2 separate regions of the Homo sapiens genome follow, and region 2 is linked to region 1. Evidence: fine-mapped expression QTL. A gene starts in region 1. The other region holds a variant in brackets. All regions are shown on one strand. Distances are between the middles of the regions.

Evidence for each region. PIP is the estimated chance that this variant, and not a neighbour inherited with it, causes the effect.
Region 2: its variant is the best candidate, but not a certain one, in a credible set for the expression of RSPO2 in coronary artery (GTEx, PIP 0.74).

Annotation. Positions count from the first base shown.
Region 1 is chr8:108,078,922-108,090,099 of GRCh38, reverse strand. It overlaps RSPO2 (R-spondin 2), which reads left to right and starts at 6,480. Exons shown (of 6, transcript NM_178565.5): 1 at 6,480-6,903; 2 at 7,293-7,555. The coding sequence starts at 7,462. RefSeq lists silencers at 7,449-7,624, 8,165-8,459 and an enhancer at 7,341-8,287.
Region 2 is chr8:107,550,398-107,561,865 of GRCh38, reverse strand. No RefSeq gene overlaps it. Among named protein-coding and RNA genes, the nearest start is that of ANGPT1, 58 kb to the right of the region's middle. The variant A/G (reference allele first, on the strand shown) is at 5,502.

The sequences.
Region 1 (11,178 bases):
TCCAAAGCAATTAAAGGATAAATTCTACACTGGAAGAGTGCATACAATCAATATCAACAATGATTAAAAAGATTGTGAGAAATTTTAAATCTGAGAATGAATAACAGATAACATAAAAGATAACTCTAAATCAATTAGCTAATGAAAACAAGAATCAGTGCCAAAGTCAACCAAATCTATAAGCATAAATGCTTATGAAAGATTCAGAAAACTTTAAATCTATTCTACTGTAGCCCACACTGTACAGTCATAAAATCACTAGCATCCTATGGGTGTTAACATTGAAAAAATATATTGGAAAATTCCTAAATGAAAATCTAAAAATAATGGCACAAGGAAGAGCTTTTTCTTTCTCTTTTTAAAAAGTATACTTTAAGTTCTGGGATACATATGCAGAATGTGTAGGTTTGTTACATAGGTATACATGTGCCATGGTGGTTTGCTGCACCCATCAACCCATCATCTACATTAGGTATTTCTCCTAATGCTATCTCTCCCCTAGCCCCCAACCCCCTGACAGGCCCTGGTGTGTGATGTTCCCCTCCCTGTGTCCATGCCTTCTCATTGTTCAACTCCCACTTATAAGTGAGAACATGCAGTGTTTGGTTTTGGTTTTCTGTTCTTGTGTTAGTTTGCTGAGAATGATGGTTTCCAGCTTCAACCATGTCCCTGCAAAGGACATGAACTCTTCCTTTTTTATGGCTGCATAGTATTCCATGGTGTATATGTGCCACATTTTCTTTATCCAGTCTATCACTGATGGGCATTTGGGTTGGTTCCAAGTCTTTCCTGTTGTGAATAGTGCCACAATAAACATATGTGTGCATGTGTCTGTATAGTGGAATGATTTATAATTCTTTGGGTATATACCCAGTAATGAGATTGGTGAGTCAAATGGTATTTCTGGTTCTAGACCCTTGAGGAATTGCCACATTGTCTTCCACAATGGTTGAACTAATTTACACTCACACCAACAACGTAAAAGTGTTCTTATTTCTCCACATCCTCTCCAGCATCTGTTGTTTCCTGTCTTTTTAATGAACACCATTCTAACTGGCATGAGACGGTATCTCATTGTGGTTTTGATTTGCATTTCTCTAATGACCAGTGATAATGAGCTTTTTTTCATATGTTTGTTGGCTGCATAAATGTCTTCTCTTGAGAAGGGTCTGTTCATATCCTTTGCCCACTTTTTGATGGGGTTGTTTTTTTCTTGTAAATTTGTTTAAGTTCTTTGTAGATTCTGGATATTTGCCCTTAGTTAGATGGATAGATTGCAAAAATTTTCTCTCATTCTGTAGGTTGCCTGTTCACTTTGATGATAGTTTCTTTTGTTGTGCAGAAGCTTTTTAGTTTAATTGGATCCCATTTGTCAATTTTGGCTTTTGTTGCCATTGCTTTTGGTGTTTTAGTCATGAATTCTTTGCCCATGCCTATGTCCTGAATGGTATTGCCTAGGTTTTCTTCTAGGGTTTTTATAGTTTTAGGTCTTACGTTTAAGTCTTTAATTCATGTTGAGTTAATTTTTGTATAAGGTGTAAGAAAGGGGTCCAGTTTCAGTTTTCTGCCTATGGCTACCCAGTTTTCCAACACAATTTATTAAATAGGGAATCCTTTCCCCACTGCTTTTGTCAGGTTTGTCAAAGATCATATGGTTGTAGATGTGTGGCCTTATTTCTGAGGCCTCTGTTCTGTTCCATTGGTCTATATATCTGTTTTGATACCAGTACCATGCTGTTTTGGTTACTGTAGCCTTGTAGTATAGTCTGAAGTCAGGTAGCATGATGCCTCCAACTTTGTTCTTTTTGCTTAGGATTGTCTTGGCCATATGGGCTCTTTTTTTTGGTTCCATATGAAATTTAAAGTAGTTTTTTCTAATTCTGTGAAGAAAGTCAATGGTAGCTTGATGGGGATAGCATTGAATCTATAAATTACTTTGGGCACTATGGCCATTATCATGGTATTGATTCTTCCTATCCATCAGCATGGAATGTTTTTTCCATTTCTTTGTGTCCTCTCTGATTTCCTTGAGCAGTGATTTGTAGTTCTCCTTGAAGAGGTCCTTCACATCCCTTGTAAGTTGTATTCCTAGGTATTTTATTCTCTTTGTAGCAATTGTGAATGGGAGTTCTCTCATGATTTGGCTCTCTGTTTGCCTATTGTTGTATAGGAATGCTTGTGATTTTTGCACATTTATTTTGTATCCTGAGATTTTGCTGAAGTTGCTTATCAGCTTAAGGAGATTTTGGGCTGAGACAATGGGATTTTCTAAATATAGGATCATGTCATCTGGAAAGAGAGACAATTTGACTTCCTCTCTTCCTATTTGAATACCCTTTATTTATTGCCTGATTGCCCTGGCCAGAATTTCCAATACTATGTTGAATAGGAGTGGTGAGAGAGGGCATCCTTGTCTTGTGCTGGTTTTCAAAGGCAATGCTTCCAGCTTTTGCCCATTCAGTATGGTATTGGTTGTGGGTTTGTCATAAATAGCGAGGAAGAGCTTTTTCAAGTATGACACAGAGAAGCTATAAAAGATAAGACTGGCAAACTGCACTATGTAAAAGTATTTAAAATTTTTTTACATATTAATATACATCAAAAACAAAGTCAAAAGGTAAATAAGAAACTTGGAAAAATATGCAACTCAAATCACAAAAGACATTATATCAATACATGCAAATTCTACAAACAAAAACAAATGACCAAGAACACAATAGAAAAATAGGCAAATTATATCTTCAGAGAGTTCATGGAAAAGAAAATACAAATGGATGGAGCATACTAAAGACACACAAAATTTCATTTAAAAGAAAATAAATACAAATTAACACTTTACTGAGATACGACTTTTTGCCTACAAGTGTCAAAAGTCAAAAAGTGTTGGTCAGCATCTAGAGATAGGCATTTTCACACGGTGTAATATGAAAGAACCTTTGTGAAAGGCAATTTGCAGAACACACACACATATATCCAACTGTTTGATTCAACTTTTCTACTTTTAAGAATTTATAATGGAAAGGTAAAATGACACATGAAAAAGTTAATTGAAGCATTGCTTAAGATACAAAAAGTATGAAAACAATCTAAATGTATATTGATAGGGAGGCTGGCTAAATACAGCCATACGATGAAATAATATGTGACTATATAAAAAGAACAGGACAGTTCTCTATGAACTGATGCCATGGTGGCTCACGCCTGTAATCTCAGCACTTTGGGAGGCCGAGGCAGGCGGATCACGAAGTCCGGAGATCAAGACCATCCTGGCTAAAACGGTGAAACCCTGTCTCTGCTAAAAATACAAAAAGTAGCTGGGTGTGGTCGCATGTGCCTGTAATCCCAGCTATTCGTGAGGCTGAGGCAGGAGAATCGCTTGAACCAGGGAGTCGGAGGTTCCAGTGAGCCCGGATCGTACCACTGCACTCCAGCCTGGCGACAGAACAAGACTCCATCTCAAAAAAAAAAAAAAAAAACAACCCCTCAAGGTACAGATTAGTGAATACAGTATTCTACTAATTGCATAAAAGAGAGGAAGAATATATTATAAAACAGAGAAGGAAGAATGTATTATATATATGTATACGCACATATTATATGTATGCCTATATATGTGCATGTACATATATATAATACATTCTTCCTTCTTTCCTTGCTTGATAAGCAAAAAGATTATCAAGTTACTTGTTTGATAAGCACCAAACATCTTCTGAAGTATACCAAAAACCGTGAACACTTGTAAAAGAATAACTGATTGACTCTAAGGAGAACTGGATGCCTGAGAGAAGGAGGTAGGAGAGACTTTGCCCTGTTATGGTGTTTTGTAAGGATTGAATTTTGAGCTGTATGAACGAATTACAAGTCAAAAAATAAAATACAGAAGTTATCTCCTCTCTATAACATCATCCCCCACTTCTGCCCTCAGTTAACTTTCCCTATCACCAATGAGTGGTATAGAGTCAACCTCCTCAGTATATCAGTATACTTCTCTGTAAACAGAACCCAGGCACAAGTCTATTTACAAAGCCAGTTTAATGAAACCACTATATAAACTCAGTTTGAAGAAAAAGTCCATTGAGTCTCCAAGATGGAGAAACTGTGAGCTGTGAGCCTCAACAACACCACATTCTGAGTTTAGAAATGAAAGGAAGCAGAGATATGGGATTAAAGTTAATGATAGTCTAGGATCCATTAGGGTTGTATTTTTTAGTAGCAAGAACATTCCTGGGATTTTGAAGTCAGGAAAAATATTCAGTGAATGTAAAAAAAAAAAATTCTGCATTATCAACAAATTAGCCCCAAAGTGATTAAGTGTGAGACTCCAAGTACCCCAAGAACTAAGTCTGACAGAGTTTTAAGGTTCACTGGTGTCTTTTAAGAGGCAGAGATAGACCAGGAGGGAGCAAAAGAAGGAATTAAGAATTTTCCTTTCTTCCAGAGCCTATTCTTTTCTTACTAAACACATTAACCAATTTTCTACAGAAGTGGTACTGTCAAAATTCTTCCTCATGAACTGAATCTGGGGGTTCACTAAACTGAAAAGCATCTCTGGCTAAAAATGCACCAACTGTACAACACAAAAGATTAAAATTAAAATTATGGAAAGTTGTCTTTGAAGGGATAAGGGTGAAGTGGTCTGTAAATTTAACTAAGGAAGGCAGTGGCTAACCCTCTTCTTTCTACACAAAGAACCCATCACTGATGAGTTTGCCCTTACACTGGTTAGATACCATAGCAAACTTCCTAGTACAAATAGAAAATTGATTGTAAACCAGAACATGTAGAAGTGAAAGAGACCTTGGACAGACTTCCTAAAAATACTGCCAAGGAAACTGAGACCAAGAAAATTGCCCAAAGTGACGCAGGTGATTAATGGTAGCGCTACCTCTGCTTGGTCTTGTGTTTACTTTTGCCTTTAAATATTTTAAAAGACACTGATGACCACTGATCTTGAATGGATCTCAAAGCTTTGCAAGGAGGCAGGGGGGCTTACTTAGGGAAGACTTCCTTTCTCCCATAGATTTAACTCCTTTATAAGTATAATTCATTTGTTGTGTGCATATATGACTATATTTGGAAAGAAGTAGTATTTATGGTGCTGAAGAGATATTCAGCATCATATCAAGATGATCAAGAAATATCAAGTTATGCCAAACACTGGGGCCACTCCCTACACTGAAATGTTTCCAAATTCTGTGATAAAAATCAAAGGCTCAAAAGTCAAGAAACAGATCCACTGTTTCTGCAATGTGTTTTGTGAACTCTATTTGTGCCCTGTGGGCCAGTCTCAGTGATGGATTTTCTTATCTATGAAATGGGACCAATGACCTCAACTCAGATTTACTTGGGTGTTCTCAGGCATGCATCAAAGGCATACTGCTGAAATTCTTAGCACATAAATACCACTATGTAATAGTGAGTCTGTAAAATAGTTATGAATAGGCAATAATGGAATAGTTAATAAATATGAGTATTGCAATATTCTTTTTATATGATTGTCTTTTAAGTCATCAAATTTCTGAACATCTTCTGAAACTGAAGGAATAGAAAAGGGAATTTAAATAGTATAAAATGCTATCATAATAATATGGTAACTGCGGGCATATCTATAGACATTCATACTGCCACGGTTAGTGGCATAAATTCTTATCTTTTGCTTAAGGAATAAATACATTTTTTCCTACAGTAGTGAATGCAGGACAGATTTCACCAGAATGAAATTGGATGGCATCAAGTCTATTTAATGTAACACTTTGTTAAACAGAATATTTTCCCCAAACCCAAAGCACCTAAAAGTTTAATTCAGGAGACTTTGGAAATGAGAGGAGGATTAAGAATGAAAAATACTTTAGTGGGAAGTGAACTTTTTAAAATTATTTTTAAAGAATCAAGGCCCCAACTTCTTCAGCACTTCAGGCAACGGATCACAGGTTTTTGTTTTATTGGAGAAGAAACAAAGTAAATAACAGTTCTGAGGATGAACAAAAGCTGTTGGGAATACCCATTTCACTCCTCAAAGTGGGGGCGCGTTTTATGAATAATTTCAGCCGGCTAACATACCTTCCTGCAAAACACAGACAAGATGTAAATTAAAAAGTGGCAGAGTTGTGGCATATTGCAAAAGTTTAAAGGGAGTCATCAGTCCTTCAGTCAGATCTCCCTGCAGAAAGGTTGGCGCTGAGGTTGGAACTGACCCTAGAGGGCTGGAGAGGACCCCTTGGGGGTGAGCAGCCGGGTTCTGGGACCCAGCAAGGTCAGGGGGCGTCTCCCCAGCTACTCTTTATCTATCCCCCGCACTCTGGAAAGCCCGAAGAGGATTCGCTCCAAGTTAGGCGCGCTGTTGGCTGTCAACGTTCTTTAGGACCTCAGGGAAACCGGGACGTTTCTGGCTTTAGGACCCAGGAACTCCGAGGCAGCCTAGACTTAGATGCCTTGGACCACAGCACCACCTACTTATAGAAGCATCCCAAGCCTCAGCCGGTCTGCATCTCCATCGGAAAGTGCGCTTGCCACATCCCTTCGGATCACTTCGTCCTCCCGAGAGCGTTCTGCCTTCTACAGCTCGGAAAGAAAGAAATCTTAGCTGTGAAGTGACCGTGGAGAAAGCGCAGGAAGCGACACAATTGGTTAGGGAGGCAGAGAGTGTGAGCGGGCGCACCCCTTGCCTGGGGACCGCGCTCGCGGGCGGGGACGGAGCATCCCAGTGGCTGCACCCGCCGCTCCGCGCTCCTGCCTGGCGTCGCCAACCCCGCGGCGGCCGCTGGAATTCCAGAGCTGCCAGGCGCTCCCAGCCGGTCTCGGCAAACTTTTCCCCAGCCCACGTGCTAACCAAGCGGCTCGCTTCCCGAGCCCGGGATGGAGCACCGCGCCTAGGGAGGCCGCGCCGCCCGAGACGTGCGCACGGTAGGCAACCCACACCAAGGCAGCCGCAGCTGCGGCGCTTGGGTACACCGCCGTGGACTCCAAATGGCCTAAGAGCGTTCTTTTAGCCCTGCGCTCTCAGTGCCTTTAGAGTTCTTTCCTTTCCCCGGAGCGCCGGCACAACGCATTATGCCGCTGGGTCGGAGCTTAGGGCTCGGCAGAGGTTGCTAATTCACTGATTATAATCACCTTCCTCTCCAACTCGTCCGCAGCTGCCCGCTCTGGATTAAGCCGCTCCGCGGCTCGTGCTAGGCAGTGGGTTCGCTTCCTCCTTCCCTCTCTTCTTTAAATTGGGACGTGCGAAGGCGCAGCTGCCTCCCCGGGGCTCTCTCCATCCCCCACACACCCTGTTTTCGCTTCTTGTCTCTCAGGTTCGTGGCGGAGAGATGCTGATCGCGCTGAACTGACCGGTGCGGCCCGGGGGTGAGTGGCGAGTCTCCCTCTGAGTCCTCCCCAGCAGCGCGGCCGGCGCCGGCTCTTTGGGCGAACCCTCCAGTTCCTAGACTTTGAGAGGCGTCTCTCCCCCGCCCGACCGCCCAGATGCAGTTTCGCCTTTTCTCCTTTGCCCTCATCATTCTGAACTGCATGGATTACAGCCACTGCCAAGGCAACCGATGGAGACGCAGTAAGCGAGGTGGGTCCCTCTCTGCCAAAGGTGCGTGGTGGGCTTCAGGGGTGGCGTGTGGAGGCGCTCACTCACGCCCTGGCTCCGGGGGCTCAGATGGTCAGGGCTGTGCTCTCCACCCCAGCTTTTGCGGGTCCCCAGTCCCCACCTTTAGGACCCTGGAGCTCTACAAAACACTCTGTTTTCTGTACCCTGGAGGCGCGGGGAGCCGGAGCGAGACGCGCTGGGAGCTCGGCGAGCCGGGCGCCAATCGGGCGCTCAGGGCTAAGTCGTGCGGTCCGCACTCATGTTCGCCGCCCCACCTCCTCATCTAAACTTGTCTCTTTAGGACGTATTTCTTATCTGACATGCATTTTTTTTTTGTCGTCGTTGTTCTTCTCTCTGTCCTCCTAACCATCTTCCCTGTAGCTCATTTGTTTTATCTTCCCCATCCACGTGCGCCCCAAACCCGGCCTCAGATCTCTTCGGACTTGACCTAGCATAGTGTGTGTGTGGTGTGTGGGTGTACCCAAGCGTGTGTCTGTATTCCGGAGCTTGGGAGGGGTACCAAGTCGAGGGGGAGGACCTCCCTTTCCAGAAAAAGGCCAACATAGATCTCTTTTTTCTGGAAACTGCGACGAGATGGGAACTTTCTGAATTAAGCAGCAATTCCCGCGCTGGTTTTCTGGGGAGTCCTCGCCTCCAGAGGTTTGTTTTTAAAACAGGCCCCACTTCGCTCTCTCCATTTGCTTTGCAAAAGCAGCCACACCGGTGGAGGCTTCTGTTCTCAATGAAATTCACTTGCGGCTTTTTAACTGCTCCCTCCCTCTCCATCACTTGTGCGTAGCGGAGAAGGCGGGTGGAAGCCTCCAGAAAGGTTTCGGGGAACTCGCTTTCCTGCAGATTTAGTGCGTATTTCTGTCTCGGAGTCCGCTGGAGATGCAACTAATCCAACTGCATTTTAGAAGAAGGGCGGCTAGACACGATTCAATTTTCTGGGTGGATTTAAACATAAACCACTCACCACACGCACATCGAATTACCCGCGCAGGAAGGGCGCGCAGCAGCCCCTTCCCAGGGACCTGGTGAGAGCTGTCTATTTCATTCGGCACTTTGGACTTTTGCGCAATTAGAATTTGTCGCCGGGTTCATGAATGTTGACTTTTTCTCCAAGATGTAAACATCTCACTCGATCTGTGATGTGATTTGTTTATAACTCATTGTGTGTAATCTCCGCTCCTGCATCCAGATTTTGAGGAGGACTTTCCGAACCTTATTTTTTTGATGGCTTTTTAGGACATTGTTAAGCTGTTCTCACCTAGGGGCAGAGCTAGAGATTGGCCCACCTGAGCGCAGAGCTCCAAATAACTGATGGTGTGCGACTTCTGTAGTCCCTGCGCTTCAATTGTCTCTGTATCTGCGGCTTGTAAGAATAAACCTTCTCCAACTTCTCTCCCTCCCTCTCCCCCGATTTCTGACTTTTGGAAATTGTTTATTTTCAGAAATTATTTTACTTAAAAATACTAGAGAGAAATTTCTTCCCAAAGGCCATGAGAGTTTGATATTGATACTTGTCTTGAAAAAGTCCCTTTTTATCTCCTCTCTCCTCCCCTCCTGATTCCTTTCTCAATCCCAGTACTTTCTTTCGAGTATTCGGCAGAGCCAGCAATTTTTGATTACATTATGGTCAAAAGTGTTTGGAGAGGCTTTTCCTCTTTTTATAAGTCAAAGCTGCAGTCTACTTAGAAAAACTAAAGTGCTTGAAGTCTGCAAAATATAGAAATGTCTAAAATCCTTTGCCAGATCCTTATTAGATGACTTGCTAATTCAGTGATGGCTTTCTGATCCACCCTGCCTGTCCCATTGTGGTTGAGTGGGGAAGAACCAAGCATATTGTTTTAGTAGAACTTAATGCAGAGATGCTGTTTGGTGGAAAAGGACATTACAGCACTCCTGCGGCCAGAAGGGATACTGCATGCCTTCTCTGCAGTGCCATCTCTAAGAATCTGCCTATGCCTTCTTAGGTATCTGAAGCAGAACCTATTTATTTCAAAGCTTACTTTTAGCAAAATCTCTTGTAACGATTACCATCCACATCCCAAAGCACTGACAGTCTAACTCTAAATTGTGCAATAGTAACTTATGCCAAATCAACCTTTCGATTTAATAAAATTCAAATGCTTTCAAGAACGTGTAAATTGGTAAGGGTGTAAAAAAAAAATCAAACTTTTTTTCTTCTTCTCAACAGATATCCCTTTACAAATCCCAAGTTTCTGGCTAAAATAACTGTCGTCCTTAAAAGTGACCACACTATCTGTACCAACAAAGGGTGTACTGTGTTTTTAATTAAAAGTGGAACTACTTAAAGGGCTGGCCAGACAGTGTAGGGTGATAGTAGCTTTTCTACTTTGCAGGGAAGCTTAAGGATTGCATTGTGAGAGTATTGAAATGAATAGAGATCTAACTCAAGTTGTGTGAATTGTCCCTCTTCACAAACTTAAGCTGGTTTTAATTGATCTCATGTCCACTGATTGATCCTACACCAATTGTTGTGCATACCAAACAATTGGCTTTCCCCAAAAAGATTGATTTCAATTAGTTCCTCAGTGAATGCTTGACTACTGGCCAAATCATGTCAGCAGTGACAGTTGACATGTTAGGGCCTATGTGATACCAACATTTCCCTTTTTCCCCTTTGTTTTGGATAGTGTCAGTTAAATATTATTTTCCAAGAAGAAAAGTAATTGGTATTTTTTATAAAAGGTGTTGTAGTTTGGAAGATTAGTTATTTTCTTGGCTTTGTGCTACAAGTAGGTGGCAGTGGTACCAGGATTGGTTAGGCTTACCCCTGGGACCTGATTCTTTTTTTTTTTTTTCCATATTCCATCTGCGAATAATCAAACCTTCACTGTGGAGCATTCTCCGAACTCCTTTGGCATTATGTTTAGTCTGCTCTATGATCTCACATGCTCCATAATATCATTTTCTTAATGAAATAAAATTCTTGGCAGAGATTAGATAATTTAGTCAGTTAAAATCAATTGCATCCAGTTTGGAATGGAGAGCAAATATATCATTTAACGGTATATTTTATTTCAAAATATAGCCAGACGATTGAGAAAATAGTATTTTGACCGTCTCTACTTTTGGACAAAACTTCAAATGGGGGAGATCATCACGAACAATAAGACTACCTACCTACCATATTTTCTTCCCCTTATTTTGAAAAATTATAAAAATGCATTTGATAGTCACTAATGGGGCCTGGTTGCAATAATTTTAAAAAATTAATTAGGCACAAACACAATACAATACTGACAATGAATATCTTTTAGAGGGGAGACACATGCCAACATTTTGAAAAGCTGATTAATAACTCTTATTTTTCTCTCCATGTAGCATATTAAGATTTGTCTCCCTGACTCCCCCTTCAAAATAGTCATGATTGGCTATTGTTAACCCCTACTATCTGTCTTGGTCTTGAAACCACTTATGATTGATTTATATGTTAAGTGGAGTTCTTTGATTACTTTCATTTTTTGGAATGGTTGTAAGCCACATTTCAGACTGGATTACTGAAAGGTGGATAGACAAATCATAACTTTATTGTGGTCTCCTGGAATTTCTGGAGCATGGCATGTAATGACTTAATC
Region 2 (11,468 bases), 530 kb after region 1:
AGAAGGCACTTGGTACATAAAATTTATAGAACCTAGTAAATGTTAAAGATAGATGCATATTGTTATTCTAAGTATTCAGATGGTAATCAAAAATTGGATAACAATTGGATACAATTTTAAGTAAAATGGTTAAAATAGCCTCTGTATCCTCTTAATCCTCTCCCAGCCAATTTCTAGCATCATTTTCCTAGAATTTTGGAAAAATAAGAGCATCATTTAGAAGTGAATAACATTTTTTATTCTAAAATGTTATAATTCTAAAGTATTAAAATACTGTTTGGTGAAACAGTATTCTAAAATGTTATATTCTAAAATGTTCTAAAATGTTAAAATACTGTTTGGTGAAACAGTATTTTGTATTCTAAAATGTTAAAATACTGTTTGGTGAAAACAAAATTTATATTGTGGAATGTAATTAGCAAGAAGCCAACTTTTATTTATATTTAGTATTTATCCAGACTAGATCATTCCATTCTTTACACAGAGAAGGGTCCAAATATTGACTCTCTTTGTTTCTCTATCAGTGAAAAAGTACTTCTTTTGCTGTGCCTTATCTCAAGCTTTTAAGTATTTTGAGAACACACATGAAACAGAATTGAACATTAGCTACACATTTGAACCATAGTAAATGCTATAGCATTATCTTACCTTTTTTCTCAGAAATGTTTGCACACTTTGTTTTCCCCTTGGCCTTTGTAAAACTCAGTAAGGTGAAATGGCAAAAGGACTATTTAAATACTAACATTGAAGATTCATTCATTCATTCATTCATTCCACAAATACTGGGTGATAGAGTAGTTGAGAAGCCACAGCCCATGTCCTGCCAGGAGAAGCTGACAGTATACAACTAAATTAATAAGTGTATTCTAGGCCGGGTGTGGTAGCTAACATCTGTAATCCCAGCAGTTTGGGAGGGCAAGGTGGGCAGATCACCTGAGGTTGGGAGTTCGAGACCAGCCTGACCAACATGGAGAAACCCTGTCTCTACTAAAAATACAAAATTAGCCGGGCATGGTGGCACATGCCTATAATCCCCGCTATTTGGGAGGCTGAGGCAGGAGAATCACTTGAACCTGGGAAGCGGAGGTTGCGGTGAGCCGAGATTGCGCCATTGCACCCCAGCCTGAACAACAAGAAACTCCATCTCAAAAAAAAAAAAAAATGTATTCTACAAATCCAGGTAGTGAAGTTAGCAACACATACTAAGATAAGAATAAAGCACAGTAAGAAGAGAATGGTCAAGTGGGAGGAAATGACTACTTTGTCTAGGGTGATTAGGGAAGACTCTCTTAAGAGACGACTTTGGAATAGAAACTTAATTGAAAGAAGCCATGTGACTATCTGGAGGAATACTTCTCAGGATATCGAAGAGGCATAGGTCTCATAGAAAAAATTTCAGTTTGACTTGTCAAGGCCAGTATGTTTAGAGCAGAGAGAGTGAGAAGGGGAAAGGAAAGACACAAGGTTTGAGTGACATGGAAAAGTCCTGTAAAAAGACAAGAAAAACAAAATTCCAGGAAACTTTAATTTCTTACTGTAATTTTCCATGTATTTCAGATCTAAGCTGCTTTCAGTGTTCCAACTTGATTTTCTGTTTGCAATATGAGAATCATTTTTTCTTGAGACTGACAACTGAATTATTTTAAAATGACCAGAAATAGTGAAAACTGCTAAACTGATCAAAATATTTTTCTATATTAAGAATGACTTATATGGATTATACATTAATCATTAAATAGGCCTCTATTGAAAAGACCACATTTAAAATTCTCATTTGTTATATCAAAAACTGTATTCCCCAATATAAAGACTGAAGTATCCTAAAATTAGGATGTATTTTAGTGTGATTATGGCTTTTCAACACACAAGACAAAAAGTATATAATTTAAACAATTATCTAAATAATTAAGGGCAAGTAATAATTTTGTTTTAAATATACAAACAATTATCTAATTAGGGAATCACAAGTTGAATACCCAACTGAGATTGCTACAGTGGTATTTTGATGATTTAAGTGTGGATGAATTGTAAACATTAGGATTAAATTTCACCTGAAAGAACCTATGTTTAAAGTCTATGGAGAAACGTACTTGACAGAGTGTATTTTGAGTTATATTAAAACCAAAGACTCATAAAAATGGTTTGAGATAGTTTGCTGAAATAAAATCATATAACAAGCATGCAACTGAAACAATTAGCTACAAGTTTCAACTCACAAACATATTTGTCAGAAATTCCCTGATCATCACCCAGGCATTGATTCATGCTTTCATTGAATATTGTTTGAATTTCTACTATGTGTTAGTCATTGTGCTGGGTTCTAAGTTTACAAAGGAGAACAAAAGAGTTTTACCCTGCACCTCTTAGGGTTTATGGGTTCCTGAGGAAATTGATGAGTGATAATTAATAAATGCTACTCTTCAACTCTCTATAGAAGAGAGAGAGTTTCTACTCTAAGGATATGAAGTTTAAAAGGATCATCTGGTCTCATTTTCCACCCTTTGTATAAAAGTTAACAAAGTGCCTCTCTGACATATTTTATCTGTTGAGAAAACAGATTGAGAGTTGAGTTATAAGGGAAGAATGACTTGAAGAACGAGTGGTTGATATTACCATGAGACTCAATTGCTTCTCTTTTTGTTAACAGTTCAAGAATGGAAGAGAGAGCTTAACCATTGGTTCAATGACCAGCTGTGTGATTTCCTAAACAGTATTCACAGGCTAGTTGACTTCATTCAGGATAGAGGTGTTTCCAAGGACAGTGTCAAGGAAGAAGTTTTGAAGCAATGTATCATAGATGTAATGGAGAAAAAAGAAAGCAGTGATTAATAGAGTAGAAAGTAGAAAGATCTGTGATTTGGAGTCTAAGGAAATTGGAGAAATTTGTGGGAAGAGTAGAAAGCTGTGGTTCCACAGTACACTGAAGGAATTTTTAATTTCAGAAGTGGAAGATTTCTGGGTAGATACATGAGAAGGATAATAAGTAAAGGAAAGGAGAAGATAACAAGTTCAATATTATTGTGTTCAGGGTTAGAGGAACACAATAATAGTTGATATTACTTGGAGTAGCAGGAAATAAATGATTTGAAGCAGGTGCCAAAAGTTATACTGAATTGGGAGAAGTGACCAGGAGGATGATAGGAGATAGTGTCAAGAATAGGTAAAAGAATGTTTAGCCAACTGGCAAGAAGCTTCAAGGAAACTTATTTATTTATTTATTTATTTATTTATTTATTCATTCATTCATTCATTCATTCATTTATATGAAGATAAGGAGTCATGAGCTGAATATAATTTGGAAACTCTGAACTATATGATGTGTGGGAGAAAGAACACCTACTCTTCAGAGGACCTTGAGAATTTATGGAAAGAGTCAGTGTTCAGTGAAGCCAGTCTGAAAGAAATGGTCAGTAGAGAGGCAAAAGGTATAGAGGAATTTGTTTAACTGTGGGCAAAGAAACCCATGCAATAGATGTGAGGAGTAGTAAGGCCTTTGTGGTTTGGGCCTTAAAATGGACTAAGTCCCCAATTTACTTTTATTTTAATATCACGGGAATAAAAGCAGTAAGCTTTTCAGCCTGAAATACCCAACAAATTGTCTTAATTTACTTCATTTCAAAGGTATGAATATTGAATGAATATCGTATTCTTAGTGTAGCATCTGATTTTCAAATGTATTTAGTTCAATAAAATCTGAAGTGCATTTTGCCAAGAAAATATCATCTGAGATTTTAGCCATGTTTATTTTAGGAGAAATATAATCCTCATGTTTATGATTCATCTATACTTAAAATATTGCTGAGAGAAACCCATAGTACATCCAAGATAGTAATTGTCATTCATGTATCATTTTTAAAATTTTCTTTCAGTTATGTAACTATGTTAATTAAGCCATATCTAATTTGGAAAGTTAAGAGATATGACTTCTCAATTTAGGAAATGACATAACCACATTGAATCATGAGCCTACAGAACTGCAAGGGACCTTGGGAATCACCAAATCCCTCATTATAAAATAAGAAACTGAGGAATAGAGAAGGTACCTGATATCTGCAATCACACTCAACTTAGAGAAGAACTAGAGCAAATAAATCGGGTGATATTAATTAATTCTCCACTTTGAGCACATGAACACTTAGCACAAGCTCTTAAACATAATAAGTGCCAAATGATGCTTGTTTAATGAATAAATCAATGTCATTAGGACTCCACCTCTCAGATTTATGTGCTGTAGTTTGCCATTTGGCATATTTATTCATCAATTATCCACATATGAGGGGCCCTGTGATGGGCTTTCTACCAAATTTGCCTTATCAGACACAATTACCAGCTTTGAGAAGATTTTAACTCAAAAGTAACAAAGTTAATAAAGTGTTCAAATATGAAAGAGTCTTAGATTAATATACAAAGACCTAACTGTCGTTTTGTCTGGCTATTTGTATGAGAATGTTTATGAATAAAAATGTGTACATTACATTAAATAGGTAAAATGTTTCTTTTCCTATCATGTGCCTGGAAAATGTTTATGGAAGGGAAGGATTTAAGGAGCTCTTCAATTAGACAGTACTGCCGGAGAAAACATTCTGTGGAATCACTGAGCAGTCCAAGGGAAGATCTAAGAACAGGAGACAGAAATTAAGTAAATGGAGTTGGTAAAAGGGTTTATTGCCATTAAGCAAAGTGTGGTGAGGGACTGCCAGGGAACGACAGTGTGAAAATGAGCTGATGGACACCCGAGTAGCATACATTGTGTAGTAATGTAGTAATGTAATGTGTAGTTTTTTTATCCTTAACTCCTCTCCAGTGCACTAAAATCTCAGAACTGACCACTATATAATTCATCCATGTAACGAAAAATCATTTGTACCCCAAAAGATATTTAAATAATTTTTTTTAAAAAAAGAAATCTAGTCTTCCAAATGCAATAGCTATTAAAACCAGCAGTTTGGCAGCCACTAAGTGAGGCAGAATAAGGTAGGAACTCCCTAGAAGTCCTGTCTGCAGAGATTTGTCACTACTTTACGTGTCTGGCAGCTTGTTAGAAAGCACTATTCTCAGGTTTTGTCTTTATCTGACCTTAGTTGGAGCTCTCGCTGTTTGTGAAGAGCCCTCTTCTCAGGATTTTGCCAAAAATAATCAACAGCAATTGTTTAACATCACAGCTGCCTAATGTGGCTTTATTTGTTGGGAGGAACAAGAACTTGACCAAAATACAAAAGAAAATACTGAGGACTGACATGATCATAAGGAACTTTGCAAAGCTAAACATAACCAAGAAATCTAGGAGGCTACACACATACTCAGGACTGTGCACATGCCCAGGAAAGGACTGAGACAATACTGTCAATCACAATATTAGTAGAGCTGTTGACAATTAAAACAAAAAAATGAAGCCTAACATTTTAATTTAACTTTTAATAAATATTCCATGTTTATTAAAAATAAAAAATTAAAAAAAAAAAAAAGAAAAAGAAAATGAGCTGATGGAAAAAGAAATGTTC[A/G]AAGAATTCCGGGAAAAGGACTAGAACTTGAACAGAAAGATTATAATGTTATAGTTCAGCACATGTGAGATTTAGCTGTGCAACCTTGGACAAGGCACTTAGTTAATTACATTAATTAATTAATTTTTTTTGGAGATGGAGTCTCGCTCTGTCGCCCAGACTGGAATGTAGTGGCGAAATCTCAGCTCACTGCAAACTCTGCTTCCAGGTTGAAGCGATTCTCTTCCCTCAGCCTCCCAAGTAGCTGGGACTACAGGCGCACGCCGCTACGCCCGGCTAATTTTATTGTATTTTTTAAAGTAGAGACAGGGTTTCACTGTTTTGCCCAGGCTGACCTGGAACTCCTGAGCTCAGGCAGTCCGTCCGCCTCAGTCTCCCAAAGTGCTGGGATTACAGGCGTGAGCCACCGCGCCTGGCTGCACTTAATTATTTTAAGCCTTGGTTTTTGAGATCATCTTATAAATGTAGATAATCATGGTACTTCCCTCATCTGTCCATAGTAAGGATTAAATTAAATAATGTTTACTCACTCTGCATACAAATCAGTTTGAACAGGGAGATGAGATGTTCAATGAGGTATTGAATTCTTCTAGGTTCTAGACTTAGTTTAGTGGTGCTACTACAATTCTTTCATAATCACAGCTCTTAACCAGAGAATTTTTATGTGTAGTAATTCTCCATATGCCTTTTTTTTCTGGGAGCATTTTTTAAATTTAAACCTCCTTTAGTCAGCTCAATGGAAACTCTCAAGAATAAAGTCATCAAGTAAGTGTGACCATTTATTATTACTATTACTATTATTATATTTTAAGTTCTAGGGTACATGTGCACAACGTGCAGGTTTGTTACATATGTATACATGTGCCATGTTGGTGTGCTGCACCCATTAACTCATCATTTACATTAGGTATTTCTCCTAATGCTATCCTTTCCCCCTTCCCCCCATTCCACGACAGGCCCCAGTGTGTGATGTTCCCCACCCTGTGTCCATGTGTTCTCATTGTTCAGTTCCCACCTATGAGTGAGAATATGCGGTGTTTGGTTTTCTGTCCTTGCGATAGTTTGCTTAGAATGATGGTTTCCAGCTTCATCCATGTCCCTACAAAGGACACGAACTCATCCTTTTTTATGGCTGCATAGTATTCCATGGTGTATATGTGCCACATTTTCTTAATCCAGTCTGTCATTGATGGACATTTGGGTTGGTTCCAAGTCTTTGCTGTTGTGAATAGTGCCACAATAAACATACGTGTGTGTGTGTCTTTATAGTAGCATGATTTATAATCCTTTGGGTATATACCCAGTAATGGGATAGCTGGGTCAAATGGTATTTCTAGTTCTAGATCCTTGAGGAATTGCCACACTGTCTTCCACAATGGCTGGACTAGTTTACACTCCCACCAACAGTGTAAAAGTGTTCTTACTTCTCCACATCCTCTCCAGCACCTGTTGTTTCCTGACTTTTAAATGATCACCATTCTAACTGGTGTGAGATGGTATGTCATTGTGGTTTTGATTTGCATTTCTCTGATGGCCAGAGATGATGAGCATTTTTTATGTGTCTGTTGGCTGCATAAATGTCTTCTTTTGAGAACACCATCTGATCTTTGACAAACCTGACAAAAACAAGAAATGGGGAAAGGATTCCCTATTTAATAAATGGTGCTGGGAAAATTGGCTAGCCGTATGTAGAAAGCAGAAATGGATCCCTTCCTTACACCTTATAAAAAATTAATTCAAGATGGATTAAAGACTTAAATGTTAGACCCAAAACCATAAAAACCTTAGAAGAAAACCTAGGCAATACCATTCAGGACATAGGCATGGGCAAGGACTTCATGTCTAAAACACCAAAAGCAATGGCAACAAAAGCCAAAGTACACAAATGGGATTTAATTAAACTAAAGAGCTTCTGCACAGCAAAAGAAACTACCATCAGAGTGATCAGGAAACCTACAGAATGGGAGAAAAATTTTGCAATCTACCCATCTGACAAAGGGCTAATATCCAGAATCTACAAAGAACTTAAACAAATTTACAAGAAAATATCAAACAACCCCATCAAACAGTGGACAAAGGATATGAACAGACACTTCTCAAAAGTGATGACCATTTTATAGTGAGACAAATCCTGGACATTTCCTGGGTGGTAAATGCTAGATTAGCAAAGTGAAGGCCAGAGTGAGGAAATTCTGATGACCTGTTTGTGATTAGTGGGAAAAGCACTAGATGTGAAGTGGGAAGACCTAAGTTTGAAGGGGAAGTCTGTTTCTGCCACCTGCTAGTTGCAAGACTTGGATACATTACCTAATATTTTTGAGCCTCCGCTTGTTGATCTATACAATAGGGACAGTAATACAAGCCTCAGAAGTTGTAGAAATTAGATGACATAATATAGCACCTAGCACAGTGCTTGATATTCAACCAAAGCTTCATATATATCCCTGATCTCCCCCTTCTTCCTATATCACTTAAGTCTCAAGATATATTAATCTTCAAGTTCTTTAGAGATGAAAAAATAAAGCCAAGAAAGGGCTAAGTGGGAAGTGGGGGGAAATTCTGAATCATTTGAGGAAAGATGAAATGGAAGCTCATCAAAAAACAATTCACAAAGGACTATCAATTATTCTTATTTCATGTTAAATGACCATAAACACTGTACATTTTGTAAACTTTATATATCTAAAGCTGTCAGATGATGGATGTATCACTTTGGAATGACCCTTAATGTCACATCATAGTTGGTAATGCTAACAGAGTCAAGCTGAATGGCGGAAAATAAACTTCTCTTCCAGCCCTATAATTTGTGAAATGATCAGGACAGAGAAATGGAGAGAAATTGAATTAATATATGACATGGTCATGGTAACATAACACAGCGAATAACCAAGTTTCATAAAGTCAAATATTAGGAAGACATTAATAGAACTATTTAGATTTCTGCAGTGCCTTCTTACAACGGACCTGAAAGTGTCCGTTCTGTTGTCTAGATGGCTTCCTTCAAATGTGGCTTCCTTTATATTGCTAACCTTATTAATGCAAACCCTTCCAGATGGCTTTGCCATGATTATTTTACTTGCCATCTCATTTCCACTGAGCAGGGTTTTGCCTCTGCTAATAAGTGCAATGAAGCATGCTGCTCCCCTCATTGTCTGATTAAATGGTGAGCAGCAGGTGATTTTTTCAATTAATTCATGTTTAAAAATACTAGCTCCTTAAACATATTTATAATAGCATCACAAACATTATTTTCAAAGTTTGGCAAGATGTTATATAGATAATTTTAAAATAATCGCTTACGAAAAATTAGATGTTTTGTTTTATGTTGTTTTTTTCTTTGAAATCATGCTTTCTTTATTATTATAAATATTTTCAACTTTTATTTTAGGTTCAGGGGGTACATGTGCAGGTTTGTTACACGGGTAAATTGTGTGTTGCTGAGGTTTGGGGTACAAATGATCTTGTTACCCAGGTAGTGAGCACAGTACCCAATGGGTGGTTTTTCAGCCCATACCCGATTCTCCTTCTTCCCCATCCAGTAGTGCCCAGAATGTGTTGTTCCCTTTATGTCCATATGTACTCAGTGTTTAGCTTCCACTTATAAGTGAGAACATGTGGTATTTGCTTTTCTGTTCCTGTGTTAATTTGCTTAGGATAATAGCTTCTGGCTGAATTTGTGTTGCTGTAAAGAACATGATTTCACTGTTTTTTTTATGGCTGCATAGTATTCCATGGTGCATAAGTACCACATTTGTTTATCATATCCATCATTGATGGCCACATAGGCTGATTCCATGTTTTTGCTATGTGAGTAGTGTTGTGAGTAGTGTGAGTAGTGTTGTGAGTAGTGTTGCGATGAACATACAAGTGCATATGTCTTTTTGGTGGAATATTTTCCTTTGTGTATATACCTAGTAATGGGACAGCTGTGTCAAATGATAGTTCTGTTTTAAATTCTTTGAGAAATATCCAAACTGGTTTCCACAGCAGGTAAACAAATTTACATTCTCACCAACTGTGTATAAGCATTCCCTTTTCTCCACAAAGTTGCCCTCAGTTATTTTTTGAGTCTTTATAATGGCCATTCTGACTAGTGTGAGATGGTATCTCATTGAGGTTTTGATTTGGATTTCTCTAATGATTCGTGATGTTGAGCATTTTTTCATATATTTGTTGGACGCTCGTATGTCTCCTTTTGAGAAGTGTGTGTTCATGTCCTTTGCCCATATTTTAATGGGGTAATTTGTTTTTTTTGCTTGTTGAATTGTTTAAGTTCCTTATAGATTCTGGATATTAGACCTTTGTCAGATACAGTTTGCTAATATAAAAAATTAGATGTTTTTGGACAATTCTCATGTCAAATCTCAAGAGAATGTACAGTTTAAGGTAGTGAGTTATTTCTTTGCACCCCAGAATCTTATTGATTTTCTTTGGTGCTTGCTGATATGATTACATTAAAAAAAAATGGAAAAGGATATATAAATATATATACATATATATTTATAGGATATTTAAATATATATACATATATATTTATAGGATATTTAAATATATATATTTAAAGGATATATATATATACACACACACACATGGGATATATATATATATACACACAGGATAAATATACTTATATATACAGCATATATACTGTATATTCTTATATATACAATGTGTGTGTACATATAAACACACACATATATGGGATATATATACAAACACACAGGATATACATACACACTTATATATACTGAGTGTGTATGTATATACACACATACACTTATATATAAGTGTGTGTATATATGTACATATACACATATATAAGTGTGTATATATACGTATATATACATATGTGCGTATATATACGTATATATACATATGTGCGTATATATACGTATATATACATATGTGCGTATATACGTATATATACATATGTGCGTATATACGTATATATACATATGTGCGTATATACGTATATATACATATGTGCGTATATACGTATATATACATATGTGTGTATATATGTATATATACATATGTGTGTACATATATACACTTATTTACACAGGTGTGCATACATACAGGAGAGATATATAAAGGATATATATGATATATATATACTTACATATTATAAATATTGTATACTAATATATATCTATATCCTGTACATGTGTCTCTCTCTATCTCTATCTCTAGTGTGTGTATACACACACACACACACACACACACACACACACAGAGCTGAGCATCCCAAATTAGAAAATCAAAAATTGGAAATGCTCCAAAATCAGAAACTTTTTGAATGCTGAAATGGGGAGTCAAAGGAAATGCTCACTGAGATATTTCAGATTTTAGGTTTTTGGGTTAGGAATGCTTAACCAGTAAGATAATGCAAAAATTCCCAAATCTGAAAAAGCTGAAATTGGAAATACTTCTGGTCCCAAACATTTTGGATAAGGGATACTCAACCTATATATGCATATACACATACACCCTTATGTTAAAATAAAAATGCTTTTAAATGGAAACTAGCAATTTCTTAAAGAAAAAGAACATGTACAACATTGTTTGTCTATCACATAATTTCAAAAAAGCACCTAAACCATAACCAGTAACTGGATTCTGCATTCCTTATAAACACTAGACTATCAACTCCTTGAGGAAAGGGTTTCTGGTCCATTTCTTTGCATACATTATGTCGAGTCCAAACATTTTTGTTCTAGCATTGGAGTCTGCATCACCTGCAGTGAAAATTGTTTTTAAGTATTAATTTTTTTAGTTGAATGTTAAGTGAAATCTTCTCATTTAATTCCCTGTGATCTAATTCTAAACTGAAAATAACATTTAAATGTTGATTACGGTATAATGCTCTTTCACTGGTATTTATGGTCTAGACTTTTTCAATCTAGTGTAAGGTTCACCTTTGTTCTCTAAACATAGTCCACATTTGAAGGTCAAGTTTCATATATT